Linked DNA regions of Homo sapiens: regions 2, 3, 4, 5 and 6 are each linked to region 1. The links come from fine-mapping of genetic effects on gene expression. A gene starts in region 1. Each other region holds a variant in brackets. All regions are shown on one strand. Distances are between the middles of the regions. Region 1 holds the start of MMP17 (matrix metallopeptidase 17). Region 2 has its middle 27 kb from the start of MMP17. Region 3 has its middle 28 kb from the start of LINC02414. Region 4 has its middle 24 kb from the start of MMP17. Region 5 overlaps LOC105370082 (a long non-coding RNA gene). Region 6 overlaps SFSWAP (splicing factor SWAP).

What was found. PIP is the estimated chance that this variant, and not a neighbour inherited with it, causes the effect.
Region 2: its variant is fine-mapped to the expression of MMP17 in whole blood (INTERVAL, PIP above 0.99).
Region 3: its variant is fine-mapped to the expression of MMP17 in whole blood (TOPMed, PIP above 0.99).
Region 4: its variant is fine-mapped to the expression of MMP17 in monocytes after LPS (Quach 2016, PIP 0.95). The same link has a PIP of 0.9 or more in monocytes after R848.
Region 5: its variant is fine-mapped to the expression of MMP17 in gastroesophageal junction (GTEx, PIP 0.97).
Region 6: its variant is fine-mapped to the expression of MMP17 in gastroesophageal junction (GTEx, PIP 0.93).

Annotation. Positions count from the first base shown.
Region 1 is chr12:131,826,814-131,830,898 of GRCh38, reverse strand. It overlaps MMP17 (matrix metallopeptidase 17), which reads right to left and starts at 2,506. Exons shown (of 10, transcript NM_016155.7): 1 at 2,246-2,506. The coding sequence starts at 2,404. RefSeq lists silencers at 263-522, 2,512-2,641 and an enhancer at 170-779.
Region 2 is chr12:131,853,035-131,857,119 of GRCh38, reverse strand. No RefSeq gene overlaps it. Among named protein-coding and RNA genes, the nearest start is that of MMP17, 27 kb to the right of the region's middle. RefSeq lists an enhancer at 635-1,186. The variant TGC/C (reference allele first, on the strand shown) is at 1,778.
Region 3 is chr12:131,618,075-131,622,159 of GRCh38, reverse strand. No RefSeq gene overlaps it. Among named protein-coding and RNA genes, the nearest start is that of LINC02414, 28 kb to the left of the region's middle. RefSeq lists enhancers at 3,574-4,074, 4,075-4,085. The variant G/A (reference allele first, on the strand shown) is at 1,868.
Region 4 is chr12:131,802,345-131,806,429 of GRCh38, reverse strand. No RefSeq gene overlaps it. Among named protein-coding and RNA genes, the nearest start is that of MMP17, 24 kb to the left of the region's middle. The variant A/T (reference allele first, on the strand shown) is at 2,083.
Region 5 is chr12:131,233,810-131,237,894 of GRCh38, reverse strand. LOC105370082 (a long non-coding RNA gene) reads left to right here. Exons shown (of 4, transcript XR_945559.3): 4 at 1-4,085. Among named protein-coding and RNA genes, the nearest start is that of LINC02415, 62 kb to the left of the region's middle. RefSeq lists an enhancer at 2,585-3,194. The variant C/A (reference allele first, on the strand shown) is at 1,557.
Region 6 is chr12:131,739,900-131,743,984 of GRCh38, reverse strand. All of the region lies in intron 7 of SFSWAP (splicing factor SWAP), which reads right to left. Among named protein-coding and RNA genes, the nearest start is that of SFSWAP, 31 kb to the right of the region's middle. The variant G/A (reference allele first, on the strand shown) is at 2,480.

The DNA.
Region 1 (4,085 bases):
CAAGCAGCCCCGCCAAGGACCCCCGGGGGGACAGTGCGCTCTTTTGTCCCCGCCGGGGGCTCCTGAAAGCCCGGCTCCGCAGCCCAGCAGCCTGAATCCCGGCCTTGTTCACGTGCATACGGGGGGCGCTCCGGGGCGGGCCCTCCCCTCCAGCCCCGGCTCCAGCCCTGCTGGGTGCAGCTCTGTCTGCAGCTCTGAGACAAAGGAGCACTTCTCGTCCCTGGCGCCCAGACCTGAATATCAGTCCACTCCGGGAGCGCCTCCGGCGAGCGGGCGGAGGAGGAGTCCCCGCTCCCGCCCAGATCCCGGCCTCCTCGTCCCTCCCCGCGGGGAAGCCGCCCGCCCCTGGGCCTGAGCTCGGCCCGCGGTTCCCCGAGGGCCAGCAGAGGACGCCCCGCACCGCCAGTGTGAGCAGGAAGCCGCGGCAGGACGGAGGCTCCACGCCAGGCCGGGCCCGACACGGAGCGGGGCTCCAGGCAGGGGGCTGCCCGCAGCGTCCTCCCTCTCCGGCTGGACACCGGGGCCCCACTCACTGCCCCCGGCCAGGCTGGGGAGCCACATCCTCCGCTCGGTGCTGTCGCAGGGCGCGGGGCGGGTGACCCCCGGGGTGCCAGGAGAGACCGAGGCGCAGGTACCAGCCGAGAGGAGGGCGCCTGACCCACTCTCTCCGGGCAGGGGGGCAGGTGGGTGGCGAGAAACTTCCAAACCGCACTGGGTCTGATCAGCCAACATGGCTCGGCCGGGGGTCCATCCTCCTGAGTGTGTGGGCCCCACCTTGAGTCCTTCCCTGGCATTGCCCCGGCCCCTTCTGCGGCACCCTCGGACCTGGAAGGCGGGCCTGGGTTCACCTCCCTCCACAGCTGGAGACCCCAGGCCCCCAGGGCGTGATTCTCAGTGGGGGATCCGGGAGATCCGCACCTACAAAAGGGTCTTGAGGAGGTGGAGGGGGGCACCCCAAGTTCACAGGCTGCCTGGCTGGAAGGAAGCCACTGTGGGGACCTGCAGGCACCTGGACGCGGGCAGCAGGGACAGTGGCCAGCACCCTCCCAGATGGCTTCGGGGCCTGGGGCAAACGGTGGCCAAATCGGCTTCCCATCCAGACCCCCTGGCCAAGTCCTGCCAACCACAGGGGCTGCGGGTGCCACCCAAGTGGCCCCTCCATATGCCTCGACTGCCTGAAATACACCTGCGCTGACTTGCTTGGACCCCAAGGTTTTGGAGCTCCTGAATGTCCACTGCGCTGGGCGAGGGGCCCTGCCAGGACCCCACTGGGAGACTGTCCGCGGACGAGGGCCAGGCCGAGTACTTGTGTGGGGCGGGGAGGCCTCGGCTCCTGGCCCGACTCCCTGGGTAGGAGTCCATTGAAGGCAGCGGTGGGGCAGGAGCCTCAGAAGGAACCAACGAACCCAGCGGGAGTTCACCCGGCCGCCCCAGCGGGGGGGCGCTGACCCCACGACGTGTGCTCTAAATCTTCCGGGTCCACAGGAGACGCGAGTCCCGGCTGCGGAACAGGGGAGGGGGCTGTAGGAAGAGGCCACGTCGCTGCCCCCAGGCAGGGTTTCTAAGCTGAGCTGGGGACAGCTACTGGGTGTGGAGTGAGGAAGGCTCTCCCCGCGCCCCCGGCTCAGCACTGTACCAGGGCAAGGCAGGGCCAGCCTGGCCGACCTGGGGTGGAGGGGAAGGAGGCTGAGGGCCAGGTCCTTGTCCAGTGGGGAGCTGGGGGCCAGCATCCCTGTGCCCCCAACACCCTCAACCGAGCAAACTCGGGGGCTCAAGGCTTTCGGGGTGCCCCCACTCCGTAGCCCCTGCCCTTCCTCGCTTTGTGGGTGCGTGCTCCTGCCCCCGCCACTCCCACCCGGAACGCACGCAGCGCGCAGAGCTCGGGGCGGCCGCGATGCCTGCTCTCGCCCAGCCCGGCTGCTCCGGGGCTGCTGCAAGCCGGCGACCCGGGCTCCGGGTGGGCGACCCCCTCACAACTCCACGGGCTCCTGCGGCTGCGGCGCGCTCCCAGCGCACGGAGCCGGGACGGCAGCCGGCGCCTCCCCAGGACTCGCGTGCGCTCGCCCGGTCGCTCAGCCCGCGTCCCTGCCTCAGTCTCCCCACCCAGGAAATGGGTCCAGGGCGCCAGGGCTCCCGCGCGACGCCGACGTGCACTGCTGGGGTCTTCCCGGTCCCCGCCACCCGGCCCGCGGAGACCCCCGGCTCCGGCCCAGGAGCTCCGCGCCCGTCCCGCCCGCGCGCTCACCACTCCCAGGCTGAGGTCCTCGGCGCGCGGCGCGGGTGCGGGCGCGGCGCAGCCCCCGCGGGTCCCCAGCGCCAGCAGCAGCAGCAGCGGCAGCGGCAGCCGCGAGAGTCCGGGCCCTGGGGGCGGCGGGCCGGGTCCCCGGGCTGCGCGGCGCCGCATGGCGCTCACATGGGCCCGCGGGCGGCGTGCAGGGTCCCGCGCCCTCCGCTTCGCGTTCCGCAGCCCGGCGCCCTCCGCTCTCCGCGGCGCCCCCGCCGGACTGAGCCCCGCGCGGCAGCCTCAAGCGGCGGGGCGGGGCCATGCAAATGTATGCTAACGAGGCCGGCCGCCTTAAAGGGCCCGCGCCGCCTCGGACGCTGCCACCCCCGCCCGCCCCGCCGTGTCCGCGACGGGACTGGGTCCGCGGCATCACAGGGAAGGCGTTTCCCCGGGTGTCTTAGGACGCTCTTGGGGCGGCGGGGACGCGCGGGATGGGCGCGGAGGCGGGGGTCGGGGCGCCTGCGGGGAGCTGACCCTGACTCCCCTCTCCGGCCGCGCTCCCGGGTCCACCCCCCACGGCGCCGAGGCCCGGGTTCAGACCCGGGTTCAGGCCCCGGAGCCGCCGCCGCAGCGCAGCAGGTGGGCGCTTGGTGGAGCCCGCGGACCGCGGGAGAGGGAGGGTGGGGCTTGGGGGGCGCGGGGGACTGGAGGGCGAGGGCGGGTGTTGGGGGGGCTGGGGTCCTCGGCGGAGGCTCTGCGGTCCCTGCGGGCCTGGGAGCGAGAATGTTAACTTGTAATGTTTGTTGGAGCGCAGCGTGTGCCTGGCACATGCCCAGGAGTTACATAAATAATTTCATTTACTTACAACATTTATGAGATGAAAACTATGATTTCCATTTCGCAGACAAAGAAACTGAGGCCCAAAGAAATGAAGTAACTTATGGGAGGTCCTGGAGCGGGCAAGCGGCAGAGCCAGGGTCAGAGCCCGAGCAGGCGCTTGTGTGGATTGAACTCGTGCAAGTTGCGTACAGGCTGCCCACCGAGTGGGAGATCTTGGGAGAGGGCAGGGGGTGAGGTTCAAGGGTAACCCTTGCCTTTATTCAGCTTCTCCTCGTGCTGGACAGCATGGCTTCCCCTCCTTCCCAGGCCCTCCTGCTCCACCACCCCAAATCGCAGCTGGTACTGTCAGGACTGAGGTCTCATTCTACGGACAGGGAAACTGAGGCTCGGCCCCTTTTACCAGAACTGGTCTCAGGGAAGTGGTGCCCCTCCCCTCCTGTGAGGGCCGACTCCCCCCAACCACCCCCCCCCCCCCCCCCCCGCTTCCCTGGGTACTCTGGCCCATCCTGTCCCTGCTGCCCTCAGAGCCTCCCTGGCCCGGTCTGAACAGGGTGATTCCACACCTGCTTCAGATGACCTTGGTTCGGACTGATGGGATCACCTGTAGGAGGTGGGGACTTTCACAGGACATCCCGGATTGTTTTTTCTTTCTTTCTTTTTTTTTTTTTTGCTCTGTTGCCCAGGCTGGAGTGCAGTGGCACGATCTTGGCTCACTGTAATTTCTGCTTCCTAAATTCAAATGATTCTCCTGTCTCAGCCTCCTGAGTAGATGGGATTTCAAGCGTGCACAACCGTGCCCAGCTAATTTTTGTATTTTTAGTAGAGACGGGGTTTCACCATGTTGGCCAGGCTGGTCTTGAACTCCTGACTTCAGGTGATCAGCCCGCCTTGGCCTCCCAAAGTGCTGGGATTACAGGCGTGAGCCACCGCACCTGGCCTCATCCGGGATTTTGACCAAGTGCATCAGGACAACCTGGTTTCCAGAGCAGAGACCCAGCCAAAGCGGCTGTAGTCAAGGAAA
Region 2 (4,085 bases), 26 kb before region 1:
GTGCCTGTAATCCTAGGTACTCAGGAGGCCGAGGCAGGAAAATGGCTTGAACCCGGGAGGCGGAGGTTGCAGTGAGCCGAGATCACACCACTGCACTCCAGCCTGGGTGACAGAGCAAGGCTCCGTCTAAAAAAAAAGAGTGACAGAAATGCAGGCACCTGCATGGCACCAGCCGAGTGCTGGGAGGAGCCCAGGCCCCATGGAGGCTCCTGCCAGAGCCAGCGCCAACTGCCATACGACAGGAGCAAGCCAGGCCCCCCACCATGGTGCAAGTGCAGGGGAGACCAGCGGCGGAGGCCAGGCAACCTCCAGAGAGAGGGAGGGAGACAGAGAGACAGAGAGAGAGACAGGGACAGGGAGATAGAGAGAGACAGATGCAGAGACAGAGACATAGAGTCAGAGACAGGCAGAGACAAGGAGAGACAGAGACAGAGAGACAGGGAGAGGGACAGAGAGAGAGAGACAGAGAGACAGAGACAGGGAGAGAGACAGAGACAGGGAGAGGGACAGAGATAGAGACAGAGAGACAGAGACAGATGGGGAGACAGAGATATAGAGACAGAGAGGCAGAGGCAAGGAGAGACAGAGACAGAGAGGCACAGAGAGAGAGAGTCAGGGAGAGAGACAGAGATAGAGACAGAGAGACAGAGACAGGGAGGGAGACAGAGAGAGACAGGGACAGGGAGAGAGACAGATGGAGAGACAGAGATATAGAGACAGAGACAGGCAGAGACAAGGAGAGACAGACAGGGAGAGAGACAGAGAGACAAGAGACAGGGAGAGGGACAGAGATACAGAGAGACAAGGAGAGAGAAAGATAGAGACTGAGTTGGAGAGACAGACAGAGATACAGACAGAGACAGAGAGAGGCAGAGACAGAGAAACAGACTGGGGGTGACAGAGCGAGCGAGAAGGCAAGGATCCTGCTGCTGTTAAGTGGAGAAGCCGTGGGGGTCCTGTCCTGCAGTCACGGTGGAAGGACCCTGACCCGGTGGAGGTGGAGAGTGTGGCCAGCAGTGGCTCTGTCTCCTCGGCTCCTCCCATTTCTCAGCCGCAGCGGGGGTCCTGCCTGCCTGGCCTGGGCTCAGGGGGGCGGGGTGCAGAGCCACCCTGGCCCATCACAGCTTGGGGTGAAGCAGCCCAGAGCCAGCCGCCCCGCTGCAGCCACGGCGCCCTAAAAACGGCCCGGGAGCTGGGAGGGGCGGCCCTGGCTTGCGCTGTAGTCACACCTGTGGGTCCAGCTCGGCTGCCCCGGAGCGGTGTGCTCTGGCGTCCTTAGGATTCCCACGAGAGTGTCCTGCTACCTGCGGTCCCTCCGCCTGGGCAAGGGAGTGCTGCTCTCAGCCCGACCTCAGAGTGTGCCCGCTGGCTTCACACTTGGCTCCGCCCCTCCCTGAACACCTGGGCTCGGACAGCTCTCTGCCAGCTCTGGGCCTCAGTTTCCTCATCTGGGAAACAGAAGTAACCCAGTCCCTCCGCTCAGTGTCGCTGCCAGGATTCAGTGAGTTTGCAGTCGCAGATCGCAGGGCAGGCCCGGCATCTTAGCTGTCACTCATGCTGCTTTGGGGTGATCTGCCTCCCGCCAGAGCCTCCTAAGCCCCCACAATCCACTCCCCACAGGGTTTCTGAAGGAGGCCAGGAGGGTGGCAGGGAGGGACAGGTGCGGCTGGGATCTGGGGCCACCCACCCACCGGGCAGCCTTGGCCCATCCACCCTGGATGTTATGCACTGAATGTCTGTGTCTCCTCAGACATCTTTGTGTGTGTGTGTGTGTGTG[TGC/C]GTGTGTGTGTGGTTTTTAAGTTTTTAGTAGAGATGGGGTCTTGCTGTGTTGCCCAGGCTGGTCTTGAACTCCTGGGCTCAAGCGATCCTCCTACTTTGGCCTCCAAAAGTGCTGGAATTACAGGCATAAGCCACCGTGCCCGGCCACCAGTCACATTTTGAAACCATGACCGCTAGTGTGATGGTGTTAGGAGGGGGCCTTTGGCAGGCGATTTGGGTTAGATGAGGTCGTGAGGGCGGAGCCCCCACAATGAGATTGGTGCCCTGGTAGGGGGTGAAGGGACCAGCACTTTCTCTCTCGGGCTTGTGAGGACACAGTGAGAAGGTGCTGGCTTTGAACCAGGAAGCGGGCCTCTAAGAACCTGACCCTGCCGGCATCCTGACCTCAGACTCCTGCAGATTGGTGGGAAAGCAAATGCCTGTGTGGAAGCCGCACAGTCTATAGCAGCCTGTCACGGCAAGCTGAGCTAAGACACCGTGCCTCAGTTTCCCTCCCTGTAACACGGCAGCTGGAGAGGGTGTGTCCTGGCCTCAGAGGTCACCCATGTGGAAGCCGCATGGTCTACAGCAGCCTGTCACGGCAAGCTGAGCTAAGACACCGTGCCTCAGTTTCCCTTCCTGTATCATGGGAGCTGGAGAGGGTGTGTCCTGGCCTCGGAGGTCTCCCATGCAGAGGCGTTGTATAGCACCCATGGGGCTGTGTGTTTTTGGTCAAAAGCCTGGGTCACGCTAAGGGCAGCCAGTGCCTTGGCCCGGCCGTGTGGCTCAAGAGAGACCCTGGGCCTCCAGGCTGACCTCCCTGGGGTGGAAGGAAGAAGGGAAGAGGTCCTTGCCCCTCACTGGGGTGGCGTGGGTCCTCTGACCTCCTTCGGAGGGTTTTGACTGTGGCTGTGGGCTGGCGATGCCCTGCCTCCTGGGCCTGGGGGCACAGCTTCTCCAAGTTGGGCCAGCACAGCCTGAGGTATAAGCAGTGACTCTGAAAATCCAGAACGTCACGTGAAGTCTCCAGGTGTTTAGATGGTGACTCAGGCGAAGATGGAAAACTGCCTGCTGAAGACACAGAACCGAGGTCCCATCACGAGGAAGGTGCAGGCGGACAGGCCGGGGGCATGGACCACAGAAGGACGGGCCGGCAGCCCTCATAGGTGCGAGGTCACAGGGGTCGGGGAAGGCCCGGGAGCTGTGCCGGGCCAAAGAAGGCTGCCCTGGGTGAGGTCTGTCCCTGCAGCATCCTCTGATCTGAGATCCACTGGCTGCGTGTCTTTCCCAACTCTGACCTTGGGAGGACACCTGCGTTCCAGGAGACACAGAAGCGAGCTCAGGGTGGTCAGCGCCTCCCAAAGGATGCAGAGGACTCTCATGCTGCGGGTGCAGCTTTCTATGAACATGAGATCCTTTCCACAAAACAACACGCCCTGCCCGCGTGTTCCTCATCCGAGACGCGCAGGACCAGAAAAGTGTTTTGGAGCTCAGATTGTTTGGAGTTTGGACACTATATTTGCATTATACTTACAGGTTGAGCATTTTTCTCTGCTTTTCTTTTTTCAAATACTGCCACTTGGCCAGGTGTGTTGGCTCATGCCTGTAATCCTAGCCTCACCTCAGGGAGGCTGAGGCGGGTGGATCACCTGAGGTCAGGAGTTCGAGACCAGCCTGACCAACATGCTGAAACCCTGTCTTTACTAAAAATACAAAAATTAGCCAGGCGTGGTGGTGCCTGCCTGTAATCCCAGCTACTCGGGAGGCTGAGGCAGGAGAATCACTTGAATCTGGGTGGCGGAGGTTGCAGTGAGCTGAGATCTCACCACTGCACTCCAGCCTGGGCGACAGGCTCTGTCTCAAAAAAAAAAAAAAAAAAAAAAAAAGTGAAATCCCAAATGTTCTGTGTGCACCCCGAGCCCATCAGTGCTCAAAAGGTCTTGGGTTTTGGGGATTTCCGACTTTGAATGTGGGGTCAGGGTAGCCTCAGCTGCATGTGCATATCAAAAGGTGGGGGCTCATGAAATGCGTCATGGGCTGGCGGGGCTCCAGGCCCTGCCCCAGGACCCAGCACGGCCACCCCACTGCCAGAGGGAGGTGGGCTGCAGCATGGAGAGGCAAGTTCAGAGCAGCCCCCCTGCCCCGCCTACGGTTCACCTCTTCACCAGAGATAGGACCGGCAGAAGAGGCTTATGACGGAGAGTTTGGACTTCAAAACCGCAGTGAGCCCTGCCAACGTGAGAGCCCGACTCAGCAGACAAGGCCCACAGCCGGCTTTGCACTGGGGCACGACCCAGGACGTGGGGACCACGGGGCTGGGCCAGCTG
Region 3 (4,085 bases), 210 kb after region 1:
CTCTGAGGGCCTTTTATAATCTCCTTCCCTCCCCCAGGACAGCCCAGCTGCAGCCCCTCCTCACCAGCGACCCCTGGGCCCTTTGCCTCGGGGCCAGGCAAGCGGAGAGCAGAGAGCAGTGTGTGAGGAGGGAAAAAAGCCGGACTACAGGGACCCCAGCCACCCGCCAGCCCCTACCCTGCAGCCTCTCCTGCCAGAGGCCGAGGCTCCTGAGCTGCCCCGTGCAGGGAGTGTGGCCAGGCGAGGCTCCGTGGAGTGCAGGAGCTGCGGCAGCAGGAGAGCCAGGAGGAGGCTGTGGCTCTTGCCCAGGCAAGCAGACATGCCAGCTGTACGCAGTCCTGGGCCACGTATCGTGTGTGGTCTTAGGAAATGTGAGTGTACACTTGGTGCGTGCCTGTGTGTGCCCATGTGCATGTGTGTGTACACAGCCTCAGCCCACATATCATGTGTGTGAATTCAGGAAACGTGTGCGTGTGAGTGCATGTGTGTACATGCGCGTAGGTGTGCATGTGCCTGTGTGTGTTCTCATGTACACAGCAGAGCTGTGGGTCTCAGCCCCCGCTGCAGGCTGGAACCCCCTGGGGGTGTGGTGGATCTGGAACTTGGGAAGCAGCCCGGCAGCGTCGCCCAGAGCTGAAGATCCACTTACCCCGACCCAGCAGTTCCACTCCGGGGTGTCTGCACCACAGACAGGGGCATGTGTGTTCACCAGAAAGTGCTCTTAGCGGCACCGTTCGTGAGCGCCAGCCTGGAAATTGCTGCAATGCGCGTTAATCGTGCAGTGGGCACGTGAGCGGGAATGGCCATGCTGGGCCTCCCTGTCCAGGGGAGCCCTGACCCCCTCTCCCCTGCCCCGGGGAGAGGCTGAGGAGCAGTTTCCAGGCCTGGGAGGGATCTGGCCATCCTGGGAGTGACTGGGGAGGATGGAGAGTGCTGGCTCAGCCCACAGTGACTGCACAGCTCTCCCCGCCGCCTCCTCCTCCAGGAACAACAAGGGCCCTTGTGTCCGCCTCCCCCAGGGACAGTGCCCCAGTGAGGAACAGAGCCTGGCCTGGGAGGTGGCCCCAGGGCAGGCCTGGGTCCCAGCGGTTAAGTCTGGCCTCAGCCCTGGGGCTCTGGGCGGGGCTGCAGTGAGGGGATGGCGCTCTCGGTGCACCAGACTGGAACTTCTGCCCCCTCCCCGGATAGCCAGCTCTGCCACCCGCTGAAAAGGGTCCCTGGGCTGTGGACAGGCACCGTATCATGCTCTGCTATGTGGTCCTGAGGGGGACAACAGATGTCCCTAGGGTCCGTCCAGGACTCACCTGCCTGTCTCTGTATTTCTCTGCCAGGTCACCCCTACTTGGTGCACGTGATTCACAGGTGGGAAGCCACGCCTCCCAATCAGCATATTTCATACTGTGGTCCTGGGATTGGCTCAGGCATGGCCATGTGACCCAAGCTGGTCCAATGAGAATGTGCCCGGGACTTTTTCTGAAACCCCTGGGGAAGGGAGGCTTTGCCTCGCAGTTGCTCAGTTAAGAGGAGCTCTCTGAGGGCCATTTCCAGGCCGCCTTCCCCCATCAGGGACACAGGCAAAGTGCAAGAGCCCTGAGGATTTCCAGGGCTACAAAAATGTTTTAATTTCTTTTAAAATTAGAAGAAAATATGAGCTCTTAGGTCAAAGAAATATTAACCTATTCATCTTTGTACCAGTTGTAAAATAGAAGCTTAAAGGTGATTTTATGGAGGAAGGAGCCCACGAATGCAAAAGGGCCCAGGGCCCATGGAAGCCGCGTGCAGCCCTGTCTCTGCCGCCGCACAGGAGGGGGCCTGAGATGAGGATGGTGAGCTGACGGCCAGGGCCGGGTGAGGGTGACGCCCGGGC[G/A]GTGCCAGCCATCCACAAAGTCCTGCTGTGTGTGTACTGGCGTGGGCAACCTCATCAGAGCCCCACGGCACCTCACCATGATCGTTTCACAGACGGGGAGAGCGGGACCCAGAAAGGTTAAGCAATGCCACCAAAGCCACACTGCTTGAAAGTGGGAGAGCTGGGTCTTGAACATTGAGTTTGGCTGCGGAGTCTGAGCTGGGGAACCGCTGAGCTGCTTTCTGTCTGAGGGCAGGGTTGAGCCTGGGCCTGTCCTGATGCTGCCAGCCCCTTCTTAGGGTGCTCAGGTGAGGGCGTTGGTGAAGCCCCCTTTCTGTCACTTGCCTCCAAGACAGCCCAGATGACACACATGTGGAGCAGGGGCAGAGGAGAGCTGGGCAGTGGCTGCACCAGCCAGGAAGCAGATCCTGCTCCGCCGGGATATCAGACTATGTGGGCTCTGCAGCATTCACGATCCTACACTCCCACTCTGGGGTCTGGTGAGTCCTCCCCCTGCAGCAGGAGAGCAGGCTTTCCCAGAAGGTGAGCCCCACTGCTGTCCAGATGTGTGATGGCAGCTTCCTGTGAGGAACCAGACATTGTCCAATTGTGGGGGGTCTGGCTTCTTGGAGGTTTGCAGAGTGTGGCAGGTGTGGAAAAACTTGAGGCCAAGGAAAGTCCTTTCGAACAGGATTAAGCAGGTGGCATGTTGGTTGTGGTGATTCCAGTACTGTGTGCGTGTGTGTGTGTGTGTGTGTCTGTGTGCATGCACGTGTCTGCACATATGCATTCATGTATGTATGTCTGGGTCTGCGTGCGTGGGTCTCTGTGTGTGCATGCATATGTGTATATGCATTGTGTGCCCATGTGTGTGCACATCTGTGTGCACCTGTTGAGCCAGTTCTGTGAGTCCCCCTGAGGGCCAGGAGGCCGTGGGCAGGGCTGGTCCTGGAGAGCACTTTGTTTTCTTCTCCACACACTTTGGGTTCCCCCGCTGAGTGCACCCCCTGCATTTGGCTGGCTGCTTTCACCCCAGCCCCGCTCCTCCTGTGCCCAAGAACCTCCTCCTCGTCTCCTCCTCTGTCACGCAGCTGGTGCAGCACACCAGGCCTGCACTGAAATGCATCGGGGAGCAAAAGGGAGGTGAAGTCAAACATCCCATCTGCTCCTGTCCACGTCTTCAGGGTCACTGCCAAGTTCTGACACTGCCGACTCCCCACATTGAGGGCAAACAGCCCCCCCGAATGCAAATCTCACTCCTTGTTTGCAGTCACTGAGAAATTCTTTCTGGAAGATGTTTATTGTTTCTCCTTCGCTCTGCAAAATCATCAGTGTAGAGAGGATGTCTTAGGAGTTTCCAGAATAAGGAAACGAAGGAGCAGCGACTCATGTGGGTCCTCTTGGGATGGCTGAATGGAATGCAGAGAGGGGAGGAGAGTGGAAAATAGAGCATGCATTTTGAGAAAATTTCGAGCAGTTTCTCAGAAGCCTTGAGCCTTGGAGGAGGCAGAAAGGGAAATTATTTTCAGCTTTGTGTATGCTGTTTTCCGAGGATAGCACTTGTCTATCAGAGGCTGACTTCCTGAAGACTTTATCTATCAGATTAGAAGCCTGTATGAGAGCCTAGGTAAAAATGCAAATTCCTAGGTCCCAGCCCAGACCCTGGGATCAGAATATGGAGTGTGAGAGACCCAGGTTCTTGCGTCTCTGCAGCCTCCCACGTGATTCAGATGGTCGCTAAAGTGGGAAGACCAGGCTCCTGAAAGAGCGGATGGCATCTGCGCAGTTGAAGCATCGTTTGTCCATTCACTCATTCAGCAAATGTCACTGAGTCTCTTGAGGTGCCAGCGCTGTCTCTGGTGCTGAACCAGGGCCCCGCGCTCACGGCATTCACCTTCCAGTGGAGGAGACAGCTTGTATCTGAGGGAGTCCCCCAGCAGTCAGAAGGGACACGACGGGTTAACTGAAGAGGGCTTAATAAAGGGCAGGGGTCGGGACCGAGGCTGTTTATGCCAAGATGGCAAAACCCAAGAGGTCTGTGGGTGGCGACGTCTGAGACTCTAGCGGCCGCCTGGAGCTTCCGAGGCTCACCAAGAGCAAACCTGAATTGCTTTCCAGGCCACATGTCCATGAACAGCACGTGCAGAAGCAACACCCGGAGGCCTCTCCACTCCCCAGGGGCTGGTGTGGGAGGCGGCCGTGGCACCAGGAGCTGCTGCATCCTGCAAGTGCACTGCCC
Region 4 (4,085 bases), 24 kb after region 1:
GGTTTAGCTTCTAACGGTGGTCCGTAGCTTCCACTCTTACATGTCGGCCTCTGAGCCAGTCTGAGTTCACTTTTGCACATGGTGTGAGGGAAGGATGCAGCTTCGTTCTTTACACGTGGCCACGTGCCTTCCCAGCACCGCTTGTCGGAATCAGCACTTTTTTCTCCCCTGAATTGCCTGGGCTTTCAGTTCTGTCCCATCGGTCAGTTCTGCACGGTCCGGGTCCCTGCGCTGTCCAGTAAGTTTTCCAACTGTGAATTGTGAGTCTTCCAACTTTGTTCTTTTTCATGAGTGTTTTGGCTATTCTGGGTACAAATGCTTTTTTTTTTTGAGACGGAGTCTCGCTCTGTCACCCAGGTTGGAGTGCAATGGTGTGATCTCGGCTCACTGCAACCGCTGCCTCCTGGGTTGAAATGATTCTCCTGCATCAGCCTCCCGAGTAGCTGGGATTACAGGCACGTGCCACCACACCCAGCTCATTTTTATATTTTTAGTAGAGATGGGGTTTCACCATGTTGGCCAGGCTGGTCTCGAACTACAGACCTCAGGTGATCCACCTGCCTTGGCCTCCCAAAGTGCTGGGATTATAGGAGTGAGCTACTGCACCTGGCCAGGTTATACACTTTTAATTTTGAAACAAATTTATTTTAAAAAATTGTGAAAAAAGAATATTTTGTGATATGTAAAAATTCTATGAAATTCAGATCTCAGGGTTCACACATAAAATTGTATTGGAACACAGCCACACCCGCTCATTTACATGTAGTCTCTGGCTGCTTTTATGCAACCGCAGAGTTGAATAACAGAAACTGGATGCTCTGCAAATACTAAGATGTCTACCATCTGGCCTTTGCTGAACGTTTGCTTATGCTAAAGACGTTTGTGCAGATATGAGAAATGACTTAGGTACAAGGTTTTTAGAGTAGTGTTAGAGTAGGATCAGAAACAACCCAAATATGCCCCAGAAGAGAACTGGTGAATCAGCGATGCATCATTTATAAAATGGAATATTACACAGCTATGAAAAGAATGAAGAACTTCCCCAGCCCAGAGGCACCCAGGGAGATAGGACTCGATACAAGGTGGGAACCTGGATGGGATCCTGGGACAAAACGAGGACATTAGGGAAACAAAGGGAATCTGAAGTATGGACTTTCAGTAATAATAATGTATCAATATTGATTAATTCATTATAACAAGTGTACCATCCTAATGTAAGGTGTTGCCAGGCGCGGTGGCTCACGCCTATAATCCCAGCACTTTGGGAGGTCGAGGCGGATGGATCACAAGGTCAGGAGTTCAAGACCAGCCAGGCTAACATAGTGAACCCTGTCGCTACTAAAAATACAAAAATTAGCCGGGCATGGTGGTGGTTGCCTGTAGCCCTAGCTACTTGGGAGGCTGAGGCAGAAGAATCGCTTGAACCCAGGAGGCAGAGGTTGCAGTCAGCCAAGATGGCACCGCCATACTCCAGCCTGGGTGACACAATGAGACTTAAAAAAAAAAAAAATGGTGCTAATACAGTGATATAGTGGAAACTGGGTGCCGGTATATGAGAACTGTGTACCGTCTTCACAATTTTTCTGTAAATCTAAAACTGTTCTTAAAAAAGGTTATTATTCTTTGGGAGGCGAAGGTGGGCAGATCACTTGAGGTCAGGAATTTGAGACCAGCCTGGCCAACACGGTGAAACCCCATCTCTAGAAAAATATAAAAATTAGCCAGGCGTGGTGGCGCGTGCCTGTAGTCCCAGCTACTCAGGAGGCTAAGGCAAGAGAATCGCTTGAACTCAGGAGGCAGAGATTGCAGTGAGCCGAGATCGCACCACTGTACTCCAGCCTGGGCGACAGAGTGAGACTCCATCTCAAAAAAAAAAAAAGTTTATTATTAAAAAAATAGGGAAGTTCTTTATGTTCAGATAAGGAAATGACTCTAAGACATACAGTAACTGCAAAAGCAAGATGAAGCTGGCACAGAATGGAAATGATAACACACTTTCCGTGTATAAAGATGTGTATTGGGGCTGGAGGGGGAGAATATATTTGCATATTTGCTTGTATTTATACAAAGGAACTTGGAAGG[A/T]TTCACAAGAAATTCCTGTGTAGCCACGTGAGTGAATCACTTATTCAAGCCAAGTAAAACCCCAAATGTTGGCCCTGAGGTGGAAGTTTTCAGCATTCTTAGCGACTCCTCCCACCCAGTGACCTGCCTGGCCTCGTCAGCGCCCCGTTCCCAAGCCCTTTCCCTGCCTAGCCCCCTTCTCACTCACAGCCCCCAGTGCCTGTCTGGTTCCGTGAAGCTGGTGGAGCGACCTGGCCCTCTCAGCTTGCATTAGGGCTCAGATAGCTGAACGATCCAGACACGGGTCACACCCAGGGACACACAGGGCAGTGATCCAAGCCACGCACCAGGAAACATCAAAGCAAATGGCTTCTGACAAAAGCCAGCCTTACTAAACACAGGTGAAGGAGACAATCTTTGGAGAACAATTTTATTAGCACAGTTTAAGAACCTTAGAAATGATACAGTAAAACTACTATAAATCTGTCCTAAAGAAGGAAAGAATATTTTTGTTGTTGTTGTTGTTGAGACAGAGTCTCACTCTATTGCTCAGGCTGGAGTGCAATGGCGCCGTCTCGGCTCACTGCAACCTCTTCCTCCTGGTTCAAGTGATTCTCCCGCCTCAGCTTCCCGAATAGCTGGAATTATAGGTGTGCACCACCATGCCCAGCTAATTTTTGTATTTTTTGGTAGAGATGGGGTTTCACTATGTTGCCCAGGCTGGTCTCGAACTCCTGGCCTCGAACTCCTGGCCTCAAGTGATCCACCCACCTTGGCCTTCCAAAGTGCTGGGATTACAGGCGCGAGCCACCATGCCCGGCCCCAGAAGGAATCTTTTTAAAGGGGAAAAACTCTAGTTTCCCAGCAGCATCCTTGCCGACAGTGAAAGGCAGGAAGCTGTCTAGATGTCCATGGCAGGAGAGTTAGGCCCAGGGAGGGTGGGGTTGCATCTCACATGGGTGAGGGGTCCAGCCAAAGTCACCCTTGGAAATTTCTTCAATCACCAATAAAGTAAGACATTCGGGGTTTAACATAACAGTCCCTAGCGGTGATAAAACTTTTTTTTTTTTTTTTTTTTGAGACTGGAGTTTCATTCTGTCGCACAGGCTGGAGTGCAATGGCGTGATCTCGGCTCACTGCAACTTCTGCCTCCTGGGTTCAAGCAATTCTCCTGCCTCAGCCTCCCGAGTAGCTGGGACTACAGGTGCCCGCCATCATGCCCGGCTAATTTTTGCAATTTAGTAGACAGAGTTTTACCATGTTGCCCAGGCTGGTCTTGAACTCCTGGCTTCAAGCGATCCTCCTGCGTTGGCCTCCCAAAGTGCCGGGATTATAGGCGTGAGCCACTGTGTGCCTGGCCGGTGGTGAGGAATTACTACAGTGTCATACACACAGTCATGTGTCTTGTATACACTATGCAAAGTCTAATTTTACAGTTTTTTTTTTTTTTTGAGACAGGGTCTCACTTTGTTGTCCAGGCTGGAGTGCAGTGGCTCATTCATGGCTCACTGCAGCCTTGACCTCCCAGGCTGAAGCTATCCTCCCACCTCAGCCTCCTGAGTAGGTAGGACTACAGGTGTCACCACGTCTGGCTAATTTTTGTATTTGTTGTAGAGACGGAGTCTTGCTCTGTTGCCCAGGCTGGTCTTGAACTCCTGGCCTCACGTGATCCTCCTGCCTTGGCCGTCCAAGGTGCTGGGATTAAATCACTGTGCCTGACCCAGTATTTTATTTTTAAAGATGGGGTCAGCTAGGCGTGGTGGTGCGCACCTGTAGTCTCAGCTACTCAGGAGGCTGAGGCAGGAGAATCTCTTGAACCCGGGAGGCAGACGTTGTAGTGAGCTGAGATCATGCTACTGCACTCCAGCCTGGGTGACAGAGTGAGACTCCATCTCAAAAAAAACAAAACAAAACAAAACAAAACAAAGATGGGGTCTCCCTTTGTCACCCAAGCGGCAGCACAGTGGCGTGATCACAGCTCACTGCAGTCTCGACCTGCTGGGCTGAAGTGATCCTCCTGCCTC
Region 5 (4,085 bases), 590 kb after region 1:
TGGCTCACTGCAACCTCTGCTTCCCGGGTTCAAGCAATTCTTCTGCCTCAGCCTCCCCAGTAGCTGGGCTTATAAGCACTTGCCACCATGCCTGGCTAATTTCTGTATTTTTAGTACAGAGGAGATTTCACCATGGTGGCCAGGCTGGTCTCGAACTCCTGACCTCAGGTGATCTGCCTGGCTCAGCCTCCCAAAGTGCTGGGATTATAGGTGTGAGCCTCCAGGCCTGATGGAAAGATTTTATCAAGGCCACACATCCGGTGAAAGGAGAGCCAGGGCTCCACCCCTGCTGCCTGACTCCAGGCTCTGCCCAGCTACCCAGGAAGTGATAACCTCTCCTAGGGAAATGCAAGTTGACTTAAAGAGCCATCCAGGGAGGCTGAGGTGGAAGAGCACAAACAGCACGGTGGAGCTACAGTAGGTGCAGACTCGCAGGACCCACAGTGGGGCTGAAACAGAAGAGAAGAGAGACAACGTGTCCTCCACTATTGACAATGGTAAGGAACGCCTCAAGGTGACATGTCTTTCTATGACAGCCTTCCTTGAAAGAAGAAATTCCTGTCTAGAAAACGTAATAAAAAGAGGATTAAAGGTAAGTTGAGGGAAATGTTGCATTTTGATATTTACCAATAAACAAGCTTTCATGGGGCTGACACAGCAACAAGGCTCAGGATTATACACGCAGGCAGTTTATGAGTGCCTCTTCCCATTCAGAATCCTCAAAAGTGTGTAATTCAAATTCAGTGACTTAACGGATGGTGAATAAATATAGACCTGGAACTCAGCGCCCAGTGGAAGCCTGCTAAGAACTGGAGAGATGCAAATGAAATTGTTTTGCTTTTCATCACCCGTTGTGACTTCTTTTTTTGTTTGTTTGTTTGTTTTAGACAGAGTCTCACTCTGTCACCCAGGCTGGAGTACAGTGGCCTGATCTTGGCTCACTGCAACCTCCACCTCCCGGGCTCAAGCGATTCTCCGGCCTCAGCCTCCTGAGTAGCTGGGATTTACAGGCATGTGCCACTGCGCCCGGCTAATTTTTGTATTTTTAGTAGAGACAGGGTTTCATCATGTTTCCCAGGCTGGTCTTGAACTCCTGACCTCAGGTGATCCATCCACCTCAACCTCCCAAAGTGCTGGGATTACAGGCGTGAGCCACCGTGCCCGGCCTCCTGTTGTGACTTCTGACATATGGTATCCTACACCTGACATGCTTGGCGAGGATTACTTCCTGAGGAAAACAGGTCTTCCATTTGGGTGTGAGCCCGGGGACACTTCAGGACCCTGTGACCCCTCAGCCTCCCAAGAGAGGAACTGAGCTTGGGGGCTGGGGGTGTCAGCAAAAACAAACATGCTGTTCTCGTGGGAAGCTTTGGTGGACCAAGCACAATCATCAGACCCATCTCCAGAACCATCCTTGAGGCTCATGTCTTCTTGCTGCTTTTCCACTGGAATTCAAACTTTTAAAGCACAGGAATAAATTGTGGACAGAGAATTCCTTTTTTATAAGTACTGAGAGCATAACAAGGCACATCTTCCGGAGATGTAACAGTGCGTAG[C/A]CGCAGCAGCTCTATGGGCAGAGAGCCCTCAGACCCTGCAGCAAAGGACACTGTGCTCTGCCTGGATTCCTCAGCACCTGGGTGAGCTGCCCGCCCTTGGTCTCCCCCCATAGTGGGCCTTACACCAGTGCCCATCCCTCTCCAGGCACAGACCTTGTGGGAGGGACGCCCGGACATCCCAGCTAGCATCGGTGTCGGGGACAGTCCTGGTGGTCCTCAGTGAGGAGCCCAGAGGGGCAGAAGGTCATGAGAGAGAAAGAGAAGAGCAGCAGGATGGGGTGGCGGATATGGGGTGCTGGGGACCGGGTGAATTCTCAGATCATCCACTGACACAGCCATGCATCACAGGGCCATGGATGCCTCCGTCCATGCTGCCATTTCCACTGGCCTTTCCCACAGGGGAGCCCGGGGGCCCGTGTGACCGTGAGAGGGGGTTGTGTCTGGTGGGTTGAGCTCAGAGCACGCTGGGGAAGCTGCACCCTCGTCTTCTTTCACCTGCAGCCAGGACATTTTCTGAGGCCTCTGAGGCTGCTGGCCAGGCCAGGGAGGTTTCTGCAGAGCAGGGCAGAGAGCGCCTGGCTCCGGTGAGAAAGGGGCTGTCAGGCCAGGCGCAGTGGCTTACACCTGTAATCCCAGCACTTTGGGAAGCCAAGACAGGTGGATCACCTGAGGTTGGGAGTTCCCGACCAGCCTGACCAACATGGAGAAACCCCCATCTCTACTAAAAATACAAAATTAGCCGGGTGTGGTGGTGTATGCCTATAATCCCAGCTACTCTGGAGGCTGAGGGAGAAGAATCGCTTGAACCTGGGAGGCAAAAGTTGCAGTGAGTCGAGATCACGCCATTGCACCCCAGCCTAGGCAACAAGAGTGAAAGTCCATCTCAAAAAAAAAAAAAAAAAAGAAAACACAAAAAGAAAGGAGCTGTCAGGCAGGTGGCCAGGCCAGGGAGGTTTCTGCAGAGCAGGGCAGAGAGCCCCTGGCTCGGGTGAGAAAGGGGCTGTCAGGCAGGTGGCCAGGCCAGGGAGGTTTCTGCAGAGCAGGGCAGAGAGCCCCTGGCTCGGGTGAGAAAGGGGCTGTCAGGCAGGTGGCCAGCAGCCCTGAGCCTGGAGATGGGGATTCAGGAGCCCACCTGCTGCTCGGCTCAGAGCTGAGAGGAGAAACAGCCCAGAGGAACAGCGGCCTCCCCCATCCCAGCTCACGCAGAAATGCATTGGAATGTCAGGAAATTGTGTGTATTTGATGTATTTTACCTGTTGCCTAGAGAGCCCACACAGTGACGCAGGTGCCTGTTTACATTGGCTGATTGCCCGGACTTTGGAAATGCAATTATCCCCCACCACCCCCTCAGCCACTTTCTCCAGCGGACTAGGAGGGGCTGAGTGGTGCAGCCTCTGTGAAATGCTTGGCCCAGGAGAAAGCAATTCCAACGGGGCTGTGACAGCTGAGGGGGAAGGTGTGGCTGCGCAGAGCCCATCAGGGCTTGTTACTGGAAGGAGAGGGAACAAATGCCAGGCAGGCAAAATGACCCAGGACCGGCGACCACAGGCCCCTGTGGCTTCAGCAAATGCAGCTGCTTCCATTTGGCTGCAGACAGAAGCTGGATGCACGTCTGTGACCAGAAATGGACCTGCCCCTTGGTGTCCATGACAACAGCCCCTCAAAAGCAGTTCTGAACTAATCCTACCTGGCCCAGGTGTGGCTGCGGTGAGACGTGCATGGCATGCGGGTGCCCCACGCTGGGACAATCCCTTTGTTGAATCACAGAAGATGAATTAAGACAACATGCTTGGAGGTGCCCTGGGGACACAGAGGAATTAAGGATGAAAATCGCCAAAGCCAGGCTGGAGAAATTAATTTCAGTTGTGAGCACACGGTCCAGGAGGACTTATTAAAGCTGAATGGAAATTAAATCCTGACATTCCAGGAGGGCACTAAAGCACCTAATGAGAAAGAGGGGACACACACAGCCAGGCAGCACTAACATGAGCTGCAGGTAACCAGGTGCAGGGCGGTGTGGCCTGGGTCCTAGACCGGTGGACAGCCATGCCGGACAACTTCTCCTGGCTGACTAAAGTCCCAGCCATGCCCAATCTGTACCACCTGTCCTGACTCACGTCTCACCGCTTAACAAACCACCCAAAAAATGCTGTCACTTCAAACAAAATCAGTAATCCATCATTTCTCACAATTCTGTGGTCAGGATCTTGGGCAGGGCCCAGCTGGGTGGCTCTTCTGCTGTGGCGTTGCCTGGGTTCACTTCCTCAGTTGCATCCTGCTGGTGGCTCGGCTGAGCTGGAAGATTCTGGAAGGATTTTACATGCCTGCCAACATTGTTTTCAGGATGATTAAAAATAGCCTGTCTAATCCATCATCAAGGCCTCAACAGTTACCATGGAGACCACTTTATTACCAAGAGGAGAATTCAGGGGAAGCATCTGTCAAATGAGCGAAGGCTGTCAGGCGTTGACTTCTCCTCCATCTGAGAGATGGCTCTGATCCTCAGGGCTGGGCTGTCTTTTCATGAAG
Region 6 (4,085 bases), 87 kb after region 1:
AGGGGCCAAGGTACAGCTTAGGCTGTGGCTTCAGAGGGTGGAAGCCCTAAGCCTTGGCAGCTTCCATGTGGTGTTGAGCCTGCAAGTGCCCAGAAGTCAAGAACTGAGGTTTGGGAACCTCCATCTAGATTTCACAGGATGTATGGAAATGCCTGGATGCCCAGGCAGAAGTTTGTGGCAGGGGCAGGGCCCTCATCGAGAACCTTTGCTAGGGCAGTGTGGAGGGGAAATGTGAGGTCGGAGCCCCCACAGAGAGTCCCTACTGGGGTACTGCCTAGTGCAGCTGTGAGAAGAGGGCCACCATCCTCCAGACCCCAGAATGGTAGATCCACCAACAGCTTGCACCGTGCTCCTGGAAAAGCCACACTCAACACCAGCCTGTGAAAGCAGCCGGGAGGGAGGTTGTACCCTGCAGAGCCACAGGCGCGGAGCTGCCCAAGACCATGGGAACACACCTCTTGCATCAGCGTGACCTGGATGCGAGACATGGAGTCAAAGGTCATTTTGGAGCTTTATGATTTGACTGCCTTGCTAGATTTTGGACTTGTACAGGGCCTGTGCAGCCCCTCTGTTTTGGCCAATTTCTCTCATATGGACGGTTGTATTTACCCAATGCCTGTACCCCCATTATATTTAGAAAACAACTAACTTGCTTTTGATTTTATAGGCTGGTAGGCAGAAGGAACTTGCCTTGTCTCAGATGAGATGTTGGACTGTGGACTTTGAGTTAATGCTGAAATGAGTTAAGACTTTGGGGGACTGCTGGGAAAGCATGACTGGTTTTGAAATGTGAGGATGTGAGACTTGGGAGGGGTGAGAGGGGATGATATGGTTTGGCCATGTCCCCACCCAAATCTCATCTTGAATTATAACTACCACTATTCCCACATGTTGTGGGAGGAACCTGGTGGGAGGTGACTGAATTATGGGGGCGGGTCTTTCCCGCATTATTCTTATAATAGTGAATGAGTCTTATGAGATCTGATAGTCTCAAAAACAGGAGTCTCTCTGCACAAACTCTTTGCCAGCTGCCATCCATGTAAGACATGACTTGCTCCTCCTTGCCTTCTGTCATGATTGTGAGGCCTCCCCAGCCATGTGGAACTGTAAGTCCATTAAACCTCTTCTTCTCCTCCTCAGTCTCGGGTATGTCTTTATCAGCAGTGTGAAAACAGACTAATATAAACCATGAGGCTATCCATATCACAACACAGAATGGTTTCCAATGATCTGTTAATGGGTTCTTATATGCCAAGACTTACAATAAAATCACTTAACATGCAGTCCATCACAACCACACTGTATTTTGTTGTAACCTCCCGACGACCTAGTATCTTAAAAAAAAAAAAAAGTCCCCCAACAAGAGAAGACTTGTTTTGACATCACCAAATTGGATTAGGGAAACCTGAATGATTTCTGTAGTGATGCAAGATTACTCATTTGTCAAACTGGGAAACTACCAAAATGAATCCGTTTTGGGCATTTAACCAGCTATTTGGAATTTTAGCCCACTGTGCTTAAAAGTCACCTCTTTCTGGCAAATAAAACTTTCCTCTAGAAAAAAAAAAGCCTGTCTCTAAACATAACTTACCATTTTCATCAGTGACCCTCAAAGTAAAAAGCTTTCAATTTTTAATGCTGTACTGAGGTTTTGAAGACTTCTTACATAAAAATAGGTTCCAGAGAGTTGTGGGTAAAGAGAGCAAGTGGCTGAAGTGAGACCTGGGCCCCACCATGGAAAGAAGCAGGTGGAAATGCCAATGACCTGCCGTGGGGATCCTGACAGTGAGGAGAACGGGGCTTGTGGACCTGGGGCCCTGCCTGACACATATGCTGTGATACTCAAGAACGTCTCTCCCTGTAGTTCCCTCACTGGGGGAAGGAAATCCAATCTAGGACATTTTTAGAATCTCACAAAAGACAGCAGAGGATAGGTCTTCCCAAGAAGGCTGTTGGAAGGGAAGAAAAAGGTGCTAAGAGAAGGTGAGAGAGCATCAAGGAGAATCCACCCACACCAAGAACACACAGGCTTGCACACCAGGGAAGAAGGAGCACCAGACGGCATGAGACCCTGCACACGCCCCCAGGAAAAGCAGCGGAGGGAAGTAGCATGGCATGTGAATGGCATCTCAGGCTACAGGAGCATGTGACCCGAGGAACCTTTGAGCTCTCTGAGCCACAGATGAATCTGGGAAGACAGGAATTCAACAAAGCACAAAAATAAGGTAACATAACCAAATGCAACAGAGGGGGAGGCTGTGAGGCAGGGTCCAGCAGGCGCTCTCCCTGTTCTTGTACAGCCATCAGCAGAATGGTGTTTACTGTTTTTTTTTTTTTTTTGGACAGAGTCTCGCTGTGTTGCCCAGGCTGGAGTACAGTGGCACAACCATTGCTCCCTGCAGCATGGAACTCCTCGATGCCCTCCCCTCTGCCAACCCCCACACCTCACTCTCCCCAGCAGCTGGGACCACAGGTGTGC[G/A]CCATTATGGTCACTTAATTTTCTTAATTTTTTTTGTAGAGACAGTCTCACTATGTTGCCCAGCCTGGTCTTGACCTCCTGAGCTCAAGAGATCCACCCACCTTGGCCTCCCAAAGTGCTGGGACTACAGGTGTGAGCCACCATGGCTGGCCTGGTTTTTACATTTTTAAATGGTTGAAAAAATACAAACAAACAAAATAATATTTTATGACATCAAAATTGTATGAAATTAAAACCCTAGGCTGGGCACGGTGGCTTGCGCCTGTAATCCCAGCACTTTGAGGGGCCGAGGCAGGTGGATCACGAGGTCAGGAGTTCCCAGCCTGGCCAAGATGGTGAAACCCTGTCTCTACTAAAAATACAAAAATTAGCCAAGCGTGGTGTCGGACGCCTGTAATCCCAGCTACTCGAGAGGCTGAGGCAGAGAATTGCTTGAACCCAGGAGGTGGAGGTTGCAGTAAGCTGAGATCGTGCCACTGCACTCCAGCTTAGGCAACAGAGTGAGACTCTATCTCAAAAAAAAAAAAAAAAAAAAAAAAGAAAAAAAAGAAAAAAAAAGAAATGAAAAGCCTCGTATCCATCAATTAAGCTTTAGTGAAGCCCTGCCACACTCATGGGTCTACAACCATCTGCAGCTGCCTCCACACCCCAGGGACAGAGCAGGGGCTGCATAGAGGCTGGGCAGCTGCAGGGCTGAAGACATGCACCTTTATATAGAAAGGCTGTGGGGCCCTGCTGTAAAGCTTAGAAAACCAGCCAAGGATCCAAACAATACCACTGCAAAACCAATGGAATTTAAACTACAAGGAATAAATAGACATGGCTGAAAAAAGTCGCTGACAGGGAAGATGGACACAGTCCTGCTGAGTGCCAAAGAGAAACACAGGGAGCACAGGCTCGAAGAAAGGTGACCCGAACCAAGAGACTGTGTCCTTCAAGCAGAGGCACCAATGCGTGGGACAGGAAAGGTGCTCGAGGCACAACAGAAAAGAACTTCCCAGAAATGAGAACTGAATCTCTGACTGAAAGGTATACAATATAGTCCATGAAAAATGGGCAATTAAGTTAATAAAAGTTAAGGGTAAAGCAAGACTTCCTCAGATGTGTTGGGTCAGAAAGAGCATCCACCTCCCAGGGCAGGTAGGGAAGACAGGGCTGGCCTCGCCCTTTCCACAGCAACGTTCAATTCCACTTCTGAATCCTAGGCAAGCGACTCGGTGCATCGTTCCCTGCAAATTGCTATTTATGTTAAAAGGCAGCTGAGAAAGATTTTCAAGCGTGAAAAAACTCAGAGAGCAGCATAGGAGCAATGAAAGCAAACCAACCAATGAACAAACCCAAATAGGTAGTCATGACCCATCCAGCTACCCCGGGCCACCCTGCAGTGGAAAGGACAGTGTCAGATTCTAGTTCCCAGAGATCTGAGAGGCCCACAGCATTACCCAAGAGTTTTATACCCAGACAAGCCGTCCTGTTCACATAAAGGTCAAAGGCAGGCATTTTTCGACAGGCAGAATTCATGAACTACAGCCCTTGTAAAAACGTACTTGTTTATGAAATTCAAATGATCAAGAAAAGATGAATCGAATAAATAACTCAAAAGGAG